Homo sapiens: one gene and its partners. The protein of the gene in region 3 interacts with the protein of the main gene of each other region in a pairwise test. Each region holds a gene or a part of one and is shown on either strand. Other genes may lie near its edges. The genes, in order: SPG21, PLIN3 and HSD17B13.

Region 1 (3,652 bases), on a different chromosome or scaffold from region 3:
CTCTGGGAGAAAGGTGTGTGGGAAAGGCACTCTTCCTGGTGACTGATTTTTTTTTTTTTTTTTTTTTTTGCATGCTTCCACATTGGTCAGGACATTGGTCTCCTAATTTTCCAGGAAGGAGAGAGTCTCTTTAGCTGGCAGTCGCCTGCAGTATTCACTTGTAAGTGGTACTCCCAGTGGGAGTACTGCTGTTAGTGTACGTTTTATTTACTGTTTAAAGGGATGAAAAGGCAGGTCACGTCTCTCCTTTTGGAAGGTAACTGAAAATTCTACTGAGGTTACCACCAACTGAGGCCACACAAAGGAAATCAGTTCCTCTTCCTCCTGAGAGCCCGTCTCTTACTTGAGAAAACAGTTATCATCACTACCTGCTGCTTTTCTCCTGGGTCTTTTCTTCTCTGGCTTAATTTCTCCAGCTTCTTTAACCATTCCTCACGTGACATGTTTGAGCCTCTGCAACATAATCCTCCTTTGTTCAGATTTTCAGTCATTCCTCTTCACAAACAGCATTCTAGAACAGGGTGGGAACTGCCCTCATCCCAGCCCTCTGCAGCCTGAGACATGACACTACCATTTTTGGTGGCCCCTGTTGATCAGCCAGGGAGGGGGAAACCGAGCAACCCATAGGCGCCCGTCCCACTCGGGAGTGCTGTCCAGCAGTGTGTTTCTCGCTCCACAGTGGCAGGTCATGAGAGCCTTGGCTTCTGGCTGGATGTTTCTTCTTCACTCTCAAGGTTCTTGTTGTGCGCTTTCCCTGTTTCATTAGGAGGAGAGTTAATCAAGAAAAGGTCAACAGTGTCTTCAAAATTATTTTGTCATCAAGATGTGATCAGAATGTTCAGCTCCATGAGGTTTTGGAACTTATTTAATATTTGTTAGTATCTAGCAGTTAAAATGCACAGATCTTTTTAATTTAAATTTTTTTGTTGTTGTAATTGTAGATTCACATGCAGTGTAAAAAATAGTAAAGAGAAATATACCTTTTACACATTTCCCCAGTTTCTGCCGAACCTTTGCAAAACTGTAGTACAAAATCACAACCAGGATATTGATATTACTACAATCTACCAATCTCATTCAGGCTTCCCCAGTTCTGCTTGAACTCATTTGTTTGTATGTATTAAGTTGCATATAATTTTGTCACCTGTGTGGGCATGGATATTTATAAATTAAAGACTCCATGAAAGTATCATCCCCTTTCTTTTAGGCTATCATCTGACTCAAATTCTCAAACTTTCTGCTAGGTAGAATCAGTTCCCCATTCTTTCTTGGAATGGTGGAAGTCTTATCCACAAATAGAATTTTAATAATGAAAGTCATACATCAAATCTAAAATGATTCCATAATTCATATGGCAGTATCCATTCCAGTGATTCATCAATAACAAAATGAACCTAAGTGCTTAAACAGTAAGCCTGTTAGACGAGGTTTTTGGGGGAGTTTTTTTGTTTTTGTTTTTGTTTTTTGGAGATGGAGTCTCACTCTGTCACTCAGGCTAGAGTGCAGTAGTATGATCTCGGCTCATGCAACCTCCACCTCTCAGGCTCAAGCAATTCTCATGCCTCAGCTTCCCCAGTAGCTGGGATTACAGGTGCCTGTCACCATGCCTGGCTAATTTTTGTATTTTTTAGTAGAGATGGGGTTTCACCATGTTGTCCAGGCTGGTCTCGAACTCCTGACCTCAAGTGATTCACCCGCCTCGGCCTCCCAAAGCGCTGGGATTGCAAGCGTGAGCCACCACGCCCAGCCAGTTGGTTTTATATGTATATAAAAAAGGAATTCTTGGCCAGGCGCGGTGGCTCACGCCTGTAATCCCAGCACTTTGGGAGGCCGAGGCAGGCGGATCACAAGATCAGGAGATCGAGACCATCCTGGCTAACATGGTGAAACCCCGTCTCTACTAAAAATACAACAACAACAAAAAATTAGTCGGGTGTGGTGGCACATGCCTGTAGTCCCAGCTACTCAGGAGACTGAGGCAGGAGAATCGCTTGAACCTGGGAGGTGGAGGTTGCAGTGAGCCGAGATCGCGCCACTGCACTCCAGCCTGGGCGACAGAGCGAGACCCCAGTTCAAACAAACAAAAAAAAGGAATTCTTAGGGGACAAACCTGAGTCCCTTAGAAATGAGTTTGTGACTTGTACTTCTTTTTCCTCATCATTGCCAGCATTAATAGATAGGCTACGTATAGTCAAGTACCATACTTCTTTTGTCACAAACAGAAGTACAGTAGCCTGGCATGGTGGCTCACACCCGTAATCCCAGCACTTTGGGAAGTTAAGGCAGTTATATTGCTTGAGGCAGGCAAATCGCTTGAGCCCAGGAGTTCAAGACCAGCCTGGGCAACGTGGCAAAACCCCATTTCTACAAAAAAGTATACATATAAAAATTAGCCAGGCATGGTGGTGCATGCCTGTGATTCCAGCTACCGGGGGGCTGAGGTGGGAGAATCGCTTGCACCCAAGAGGTTGTGGCTGCAGTGAGCTACAATCGTGCCAATGCACTCCAGCCTGGGTGAGAGAGAGTGAGACCCTATCACAAAAACAAACAAGCTGGGTGGAGTGACTCACGCCTAAAATTCCAACACTTTGGGAGGCCAAGGCAGTTAGATCACTTGAGGTCAGGAGTTCGAGACTAGCCTGGCCAACATGGCAAAACTGTGTCTGTACTAAAAATACAAAAATCAGCTGGGTGTGGTGGTGGACATCTGTAATCTCAGCTACTCAGGAGGCTGAGGTAGGAGAATCGTTCAAACCCGGGAGGCGGAGGTGGCATGAGTCGAGATCGCGCCGCTGCACTCCAGCCTGGGCAACAGAGGAGACTCTGTCTCAAGAAACAAACAGACACCCCAAAGTACAATAAATGAAATAGAGTAACTAAGTCATTTAAAAGAAGAGGAACAATTTTACTGAATACCCTCTTAAAGAAATGCTACCAAAAAGAGAGGAAGCTCTCCTTAGAACAAATTTTGTTTCCATCTCTCCTGAGCCATAATTCTGAATGAAATTAGATTTAAGAGAAAACGGTATTTCTTTACTGGAATGGGTTCTGCTGTATTCATCCTTGAACCCCAGACTTTTTCAGCTATTTAGAAAGGAAATTGATGGGAATTGAAATTGTTACTCACGTAATATCATTAGAGTGTGCTTACTTTTTATACTCTTTTAATTTGGTCTGTTAGAAAAATGTGAAATATGAAGTTTAGTAAAAAGTGAGAGCTTATTTTTACATATTTTGAATAAGGAGCAGCGCTTGAGCAAACGAGAAATGTCAGTGTTTGAGTCCTAAGTTTTTCAAATACGTGAGTTGCATTTTTACTTTTATGATTTTTAAAAATAAAATTATCGTTATTATTTCAGTTGCAGTATCCAGTTTATTGGGACCATCTCGAGTTCTGTGATGGATTCAGAAAACTTTTAGACCATTTACAATTGGATAAAGTGAGTACCCTGAAACTAATTACATACATACAATTTTTTTTTTATTTTTTGAGATGAAGTCTCACTCTGTCACCCAGGCTGGAGTGCAGTGGCGCGATCTCGGCTCACCGCAACCTCCACCTCCCGGATTCAAGTGATTCTCCTGCCTCAGTCTCCAAAATAGCTGGGATTACAGGCGTGTGCCACCATGCCCGGCTAGTTTTTGTATTTTT
Region 2 (3,652 bases), on a different chromosome or scaffold from region 3:
TCAGACAGAACCCTGCTCCCTCAGGCCCTCCAAGGGCCTTTGAGATTCCCCCCTCCCAACTGGGGACACCAGTGAGTGGTCCATACCCCACTGAGGAATAAATCCCTCTGGCTCCGTGAGCTGCCGGCAGATCCCTGGCTCCCTGCCAGGGCACCCTGGGGTGGGAAGCCTCCTTGCACGGGAATCACAGGGTCGGGGCAGTCCCTGGTCCCGGCCCTTCCTCACCTGCTGTACCGGTTCTTCCACTGTCACCTGGGTGCTGCCATCAGCCTCTGCCCCGTCGGCAGACATGGTCTCTGCAGCAGACGCTGAGGAGAGAGGAACAGTCAGGTACAGCCTGCCTGGCCCCACCTTCCAGGAGAAAGTCCAGGCCCACGCTGCAGCTGGAAGACAGGGTTCACACCTGCCCATGACTTACAGCTGTGTCTTTCAGTCCTTAGCAGGCACAAGAGTGACCTCTGGACTTTGTTCAATAGCAAGTGCTGATTCTAAAGCTTCGGGATGGGGCTCACCTGGCCCCCTATTTCTTTTTTTTTTTCTTTATTTTCTTTGGAGACAGTCTCACTCTGTCGCCCAGGATGGAGTGCAGTGGGGCAACCTGGGCTCACTGCAACCTCCGCCTCCTGGTTTCAAGCAATTCTCCTGCCTTAGCCTCCCGAGTAGCTGGATTACAGGCACCCACCACCACGCCCAGCTAATTTTTGTATTTTTAGTAGAGACGGGGTTTCACCATATTGGCCTGGCTAGTCTTGAACTCCTGACCTTGTGTTCCACCCACCTTGGCCTCCCAAAGTGCTGGGATTACAGGTGTGAGCCACCACACCTGATCCTTTCTTTTTTTTTTTTCTCATTAAAGACAGGGTCTTGCTCTGTCACCCAGGCTGGAGTACAGTGGTACAATCACAGCTCACTGCAGCCTCTAACTCCTGGGCTTAAGGGATCCTCCTGCCTCAGCTTCCCAAGTAACTAGGACTATAGGCACACACCACCACGCCTACTTAATTTTTTCTTTTTGGGTAGAGATGTTATCTTTTTTTTTTTTTTTTGAGACAGAGTCTTGCTCTGTCGCCAGGCTGGAGTGCAGTGGCACGATCTCGGCTCACTGTAACCTCCACCTCCCACGTTCAAGCAATTCCCCTGCCTCAGCCTTCCCAGTAGCTGGGACTACAGGCGTGTGCCACTACACCTGGCCAATTTTTTGTATTTTTTTAGTAGAAACGGGTTTTCACCATGTTGGCCAGGATGGTCTTGATCTCCTGACCTCGTGATCCGCCCGCCTCGGCCTCCCAAAGTGCTGGGATTATAGGTGTGAGCCATTGTGCCTGGCCAATGGTATCTTGCTATGTTGCCCAGGCTGGTCTCGAATTCCTGGTCTCAAACAATCCTCTTGCCTTGGACTCCCAAAGTTCTGGGATTACAGGAGTGAGCCACCATGCCCGGCCCTGACCCTGCATTTCTAAAAGGCTCCCAGGCAGTGTTGATGCAGCTGGTCCCTGGGACACACGTCAGGAAGCAAGGCTTGGGAACAGTCCCTTCAGGGCTCACCTGTACTCCAGCAAGCCAGGTATGACCTAAAACCTCTGTAGAGGACAATTTGCCAATAGCTGTCAAGTTCCAAGAGCCATCTTCCCCTTGACCCAGAAACCTCACTTCGGGGAAGAACCCACACCTGTGTTTCCACATGAGCAGAGCTGTGTGGACTTACTGGCCACAACATGACACTGGAAACAACCTGGATGCCCAGCAAAAGGGGAATAAGAAAACAACAAGTGTGGCCAGACACAGTGGCTCACGCCTGTAATCCCAGCACTTTGGGAGGCCGAGGTGGGTGGAACACGAGGTCAGGAGTTCGAGTCCAGCCTGGCCAACATAGTGAAACCCCGTCTCTACTAAAAATACAAACATTAGCCAGGCATGATGGTGGGCGCCTGTAATCCCAGCTACTCAGGAGGCTGAGGCAGGAGAATCGCTTGAACCCAGGAGGCGGAGGTTGCAGTGAGGTGAGATCGCGCCACTGCACTCCAGCCTGGGCAACAGAGTGAGACTCCGTCTCAAAACACAAAAACAAAAATAAGTGTATCCCAATGCAGTGGCTAAAGAATGAGATTTAAAGGCCGGGTGCGGTGGCTCACGCCTGTAATCCCAGCACTTTGGGAGGCCAAGGCGGGTGGATCACCTGAGGTCAGGAGTTCGAGACCAGCCTGACCAACATGGAGAAACCCCATCTCTACTAAAAATATAAAATTAGCCAGGCATGGTGGCGAATGCCTGTAATCCCAGCTATTCAGGAGGCTGAGGCAGGAGAGTTACTTGAACCCGGGAAGCGGAAGTTGCAGTGAGCCGAGATCGCGCCGCTGCACTCCAGCCTGGGCAACAGGAGCGAAACTCTGTCTCAAAAAAAAAAAAAAAAGAGATTTAAATGTAACTCACATGGGCCAGATGTGGTGGGTCACACCTCTAATCCCAGCACTTTGGGAGGCCGAGGCAGGAGGATCACCTGAGGTCAGGAGGTGGAGACCAGCCTGGCCAACATGGCAAAACCCCGTCTCTACTAAAAATACAAAAATTAGCCAGGCGTGGTGGTGCACGCCTCCATGTTTAGTTATCCCAGCTACTCAGGAGGCTGAGGCAGGAGAATCGCTTGAACCCAGGAGGTGGAGGTTGCAGTGACCTGGTATTGCACCACTGCACTCCAGCCTGGGTGACAGAGCGAGACTCCATCTCAAAAAAAAAAAAAAGAAAACAAAACAAAACAAACAAAAGACTAAATGTAACTGACATGACATGAACAAAGATCTAGTCAAGGGATAAAATGTGTTAAATAGGGCAAACTTTCTTCTCTTTCTTGAGACGGATTTCCGCTCTGTCGCCCAGGCTGCAGTGTAGTGGTGCGATCTTGGCTCACTGCAACCTCTGTCTCCTACGCTCAAGCAATTCTCCCACCTTGACCCTGCAAGTAGCTGGGACTACAGGCACGCACCACCACACCTGGCTAGTGTGTGTGTGTGTGTGTGTGTGTGTGTGTGTGTGTGTGTGTGTGTGTGTGTGGTTTTGTTTTTTTTTTTTGGACAGGGAGTCTTGCTCTGTCATCCAGGCTGGGGTGCAGTGGCGTGATTTCGGCTCACTGTAACCTCCGCCTTCTGGGTTCAAGCGATTCTCCTGCCTCAGCCTCCTGAGTAGCTGGGATTACAGGTGTGCACCACGTCTGGCTAATTTTTTGTATTTTTAGTAGAGATGGGGTTTCACTATGTTGGTCAGGCTGGTCTTGAACACCTGACCTCGTGATCCACCCGCCTCAGCCTCCCAAAGTGCTGGGATTACAGGATGAGTCACTGCACTCAGCCGTGGTTTGTTTTTTTTTTTGTTGTTGTTGTTGTTTTGTTTGTTTGTTTTTTAGTAGATGGGGTTTTGCCATGTTGCCCAGGTTGGTCTTGAACTCCTGAGCTCAAGGGATCTGCCCACCTTGGCCTCCCAAACTGCTAGGATTACAGCTGTGAGCCACCGCACCCAGCCAAAATTTAGGCTTTTTTTAAAAAGTGAGATAACATGCCTGCCTGCACCGCAGAGCTATGAAGTCCAGGTCAGGGGTGTGGGGAGGACGGGGTTCCCCAGGTGAGTCTATGTAAGCGGGATGAAGCCACAACTCCCTTTT
Region 3 (3,652 bases):
TTACAGGCGCCCACCACCACGCCTGGCTAATTTTTGTATTTTTAGTAGAGACGGGGTTTCACCATGTTGGCCAGGCTGGTCTCAAACTCCTGACCTCAGGTGTCCTACCTGCCTTGGCCTCCTAAAATGCTGGGATTACAGGAGTGAGCCACCATGCCCGGCCAAAAAAATAAGTTTTTAAAGAATTAAAGGTCATCCTGGCTAACACAGTGAAACCCCGTCTCTACTAAAAAACACAAAAAAATTAGCCGGGCGTGGTGGCGGGCGCCTGTAGTCCCAGCTGCGCGGGAGGCTGAGGCAGGAGAATGGCGTGAACCCGGGAGGCGGAGCTTGCAGTGAGCCGAGATCGCGCCACTGCACTCCAGCCTGGGCGACAGAGCGAGACTCCGTCTCAAAAAAAAAAAAAAAAAAAAAAAAAAAAAGAATTAAAGGTGTTAATTTTATTTAGAAGCCTTACTGAAGACTACAGTCGGAGGCCTATAGCCTGAGAGCAGCCCTTTAGAGAGGTTCAGTTGAACTGTTCTGATAGTGGGGGCCATGTGCTCTATCCTGTATTGTCTTCAAAGCATCTTTCCAGAGAGCTGCACATTGTCACAGAGTCAGGGACTTTGTGAAATTATGCTGACAACCAGAAGTGAGTAAACGTGGCTTCTTACATTTGCTACGTTGTCTCACAGTACTTAATAAGTATGCAATATGTAAGTAAATACTATAGTACTATTGCAACTCCTGATTGTTTTCTTAGACAAGGAATTGGGCCCAATAAAAACCCTCTTGGTAGGCATTCAGGCTTCGTGTACCATGAGCTTTCCTAAGGGTATCCTGCCACTCTTGGGGAAGGCATGATAGATGAGGGGAGTAAGGATAATGGAACTCTGGGTACAGGGTTCCTGGGGGCTAACTTAGAGGTAGACACAGGCAATGCTAAATATTTGGGATTGATTTTATAGAGGTTGCTAGATTGTGAATTTCCTTAGTAAGGGCTAAGGCATTGATATGTAATGTCACACTTGGCTCCGAGGCTGGGTTGTTGGATCCATGTAGATGAAATCAGGGAGAGAAAGGGCAGAACGGAGTAATTTAGAAATGTATTGATTTGTATTACTCTCTGTTGGCTTGCTATTCAAGGCAGTGGAGAACTCAATCACATAATAATCTGCAGCAAACCACAGATCATCCCAGGGAATGAAGTTTTAACATTCGCTGGCTCCCTAACTCCTCACCCAGCCTTTACATTCACTGGCTGTTCAGTCCATGCCTGGACATCTTAATTTGAATACAACATTTTAAATCCATTTTTCTGTCATCATCTTGCACTAACAGACAATTCTACACTAAGCCTATGTTTATGAATATTTCTCAAGAGTACATGTACACAGCCTTCAGTATAAGGAAAACTGGAAGTATGACATACCTCCAGTTGTCATACTCCTTGGGCCCCTCTTAAATTCTCATTAAACTGCAGGATAGGCAAGTCAGAGGTGAATCTCAAATACGAAATTCTTACCGGAAAGGGGTTCCAATCCAGACCCCAAGAGAGGGTTCTTAGATTTCTCGCAAGAAATAATTCGGGGCAAGGCCACAGTGCAAAGCAAAAGCAAGTTTATTAGGAAAGTAAAGGAGTAGAGAACAGCTACTCCATGGAGAAGAATGGCTTGAGCTGCTCCACCAAGGGTATTTAGAGTTACTTCTTGATTATATGCTAAACAAGGGGTGGATTATTCATGAGTTTTCCGGGAAAAGGGTGAGCAATTCCCAGAACTGAGATTTCCTCCCCTTTTTAGGCCATATAGGGTAACTTCCTGCCATTGCCATGGTATTTGTAAACTGTCATAGTGCTGGTGGAAGTGTCTCTTAGCTTGCTAATGTATTATAGTTAGCTTATAATGAGCAGTGAGGACAACCAGAGGTCACTTTCATCACCATCTTGGTTTTGGTGGGTTTTGGCCGGCTTCTTTACTGCACCCTATTTTATCAACAAGGTCTTTATGACCTGAATCTTGTGCCAACCTCCTATCTCATCCTGTGACAAAGAATGCCTTAACTTCCTGGGAATGCAGCCCAGTAGGTGTCAGCCTTATTTTACCCAGACCCTATTCAAGATGGAGTTGCTCTGATTTAAACGCCTCTGACAAAATGACGACCTCAAAACAATCCAGCTTTATGGAATACCTCCACAAGAAAGAAAGTATACTTAGCTATAGAATTTTCTCCTTGCATCCAACAGGCTTTGAGATGTCAGATGTTTCCTTCCTGTCCCATGATTAATCCTAGCCATTCCTCTTTCTTGTCTGGCTCCACTACTCCTTACCATCTAATGCCTCGCCACCATTTTGATATTTTGACTAAGTGAGCTATGAAACACACCTACTGGATATGAAAGTATAAGTTTCTGATAACAAAACATCAACATGGGATGTGGAGGAAGTGGGTAGGGTGGCATTAATGCAGCAAATCCTGGAATATTTTAAATCTTCATTCTAAATTTAGTAAAAATATAGGATAATTTTCCTGCCATCATTTACTTATAAAATTAAAATTTTAGAAAATAAAAATAATATTTTCCTCTTTTTAATCACAGATTATGGCCTGTATTGGAGACAGATGAAGTCGTAAGAAGTCTGATAGATGGAATACTTACCAATAAGAAAATGATTTTTGTTCCATCGTATATCAATATCTTTCTGAGACTACAGAAGTAAGTACAGCACAGAACACCCAAATACTAAAACACCAATAGAGCTTTTTTTTTTGCTTTTTTTTTTTTTAGACAGAGTCTCACTCTGTCACCCTGGCTGGATTGCGGTGGTTGCAGTGGCATGATCTTGGCTCACTGCAACCTCCGCCTCCTGGGTTCAAGCAATTCTCATGCCTCAGACCCCCAAGTAACTGGGATTATAGGTGTGTGCTGCCACACTACACCCAGCTAATTTTTGTATTTTTTGATAGAGACAGGTTTCCCCATGTTGGCCAGGCTGGACTCGAACTCCTGACCTCAAGTTATCCTCCTGTCTCGGCCTCCCAAAGTGCTGGGATTACAGTCATGAGCCACCATGCCTGGCCCAATAGAGCTATTATTATGGAGCATCTTTCAGTTGTGAAAATTGGCATGGAAACTCTCCATCCCTGGGGAGAACAGTTATTTCCTCTGTTATTTTCCTACCCAGTCTATAAAAAGAGAGTGATTCATTTTCTCTACCAAATCTACTGTCTCTGCCCAAACTTTGCTGAAGACTATTCTAACTAAAGGAAACACAGTTTAAAAAGAATGCAATATAGTGAAGTAGTTAATAATAAAGACTCCATTTTTAAAAGTCTGCTGGAAGTTTGGTTGGGATTGCACTGAATCTATAGAGCAATTGGGGAGTATTGACATATCAACAATATTGAGTTTTCTAATCCAAGAACATAATATCTATTTTTAAAATCTTCTTCAAAATCTTTAAATCTTTAAATTGTATTTTGTAGTTTTTGGTGTTTAAGTCTTGCACATATTTTGTCAGATTTATTCCAAAGTATTTCACGGGTTCTTTTTTTTTTTTTTTTTTTTTTTTTTGAGACAGAGTTTCACCCTTGTTGCCCAGGCTGGAGTGCAGTGGCGTGATCTTGGCTCACTGCAGCTTCTGCCTCCTGGCTTCAAGTGATTCTCCTG

What was found.
Region 1: the proteins of HSD17B13 (region 3) and SPG21 interact in binary tests that used the Homo sapiens proteins (3 or more experiments, as listed by UniProt).
Region 2: the proteins of HSD17B13 (region 3) and PLIN3 interact in binary tests that used the Homo sapiens proteins (3 or more experiments, as listed by UniProt).

The regions. Positions count from the first base shown.
Region 1 is NC_000015.10:64,976,263-64,979,914, reverse strand, and holds part of SPG21 (maspardin), read left to right. Parts: intron 1-3,359; coding exon 3,360-3,440; intron 3,441-3,652. UniProt on the Homo sapiens protein: May play a role as a negative regulatory factor in CD4-dependent T-cell activation.
Region 2 is NC_000019.10:4,861,104-4,864,755, forward strand, and holds part of PLIN3 (perilipin-3), read right to left. Parts: intron 309-3,652; 5' UTR 292-308; coding exon 226-291; intron 1-225. UniProt on the Homo sapiens protein: Structural component of lipid droplets, which is required for the formation and maintenance of lipid storage droplets. Required for the transport of mannose 6-phosphate receptors (MPR) from endosomes to the trans-Golgi network.
Region 3 is NC_000004.12:87,309,289-87,312,940, reverse strand, and holds part of HSD17B13 (17-beta-hydroxysteroid dehydrogenase 13 isoform A precursor), read left to right. Parts: intron 1-2,581; coding exon 2,582-2,698; intron 2,699-3,652. UniProt on the Homo sapiens protein: Plays a pivotal role in hepatic lipid metabolism. In vitro, it catalyzes the oxidation of a variety of lipid substrates, including 17beta-estradiol, retinol, retinal, and leukotriene B4.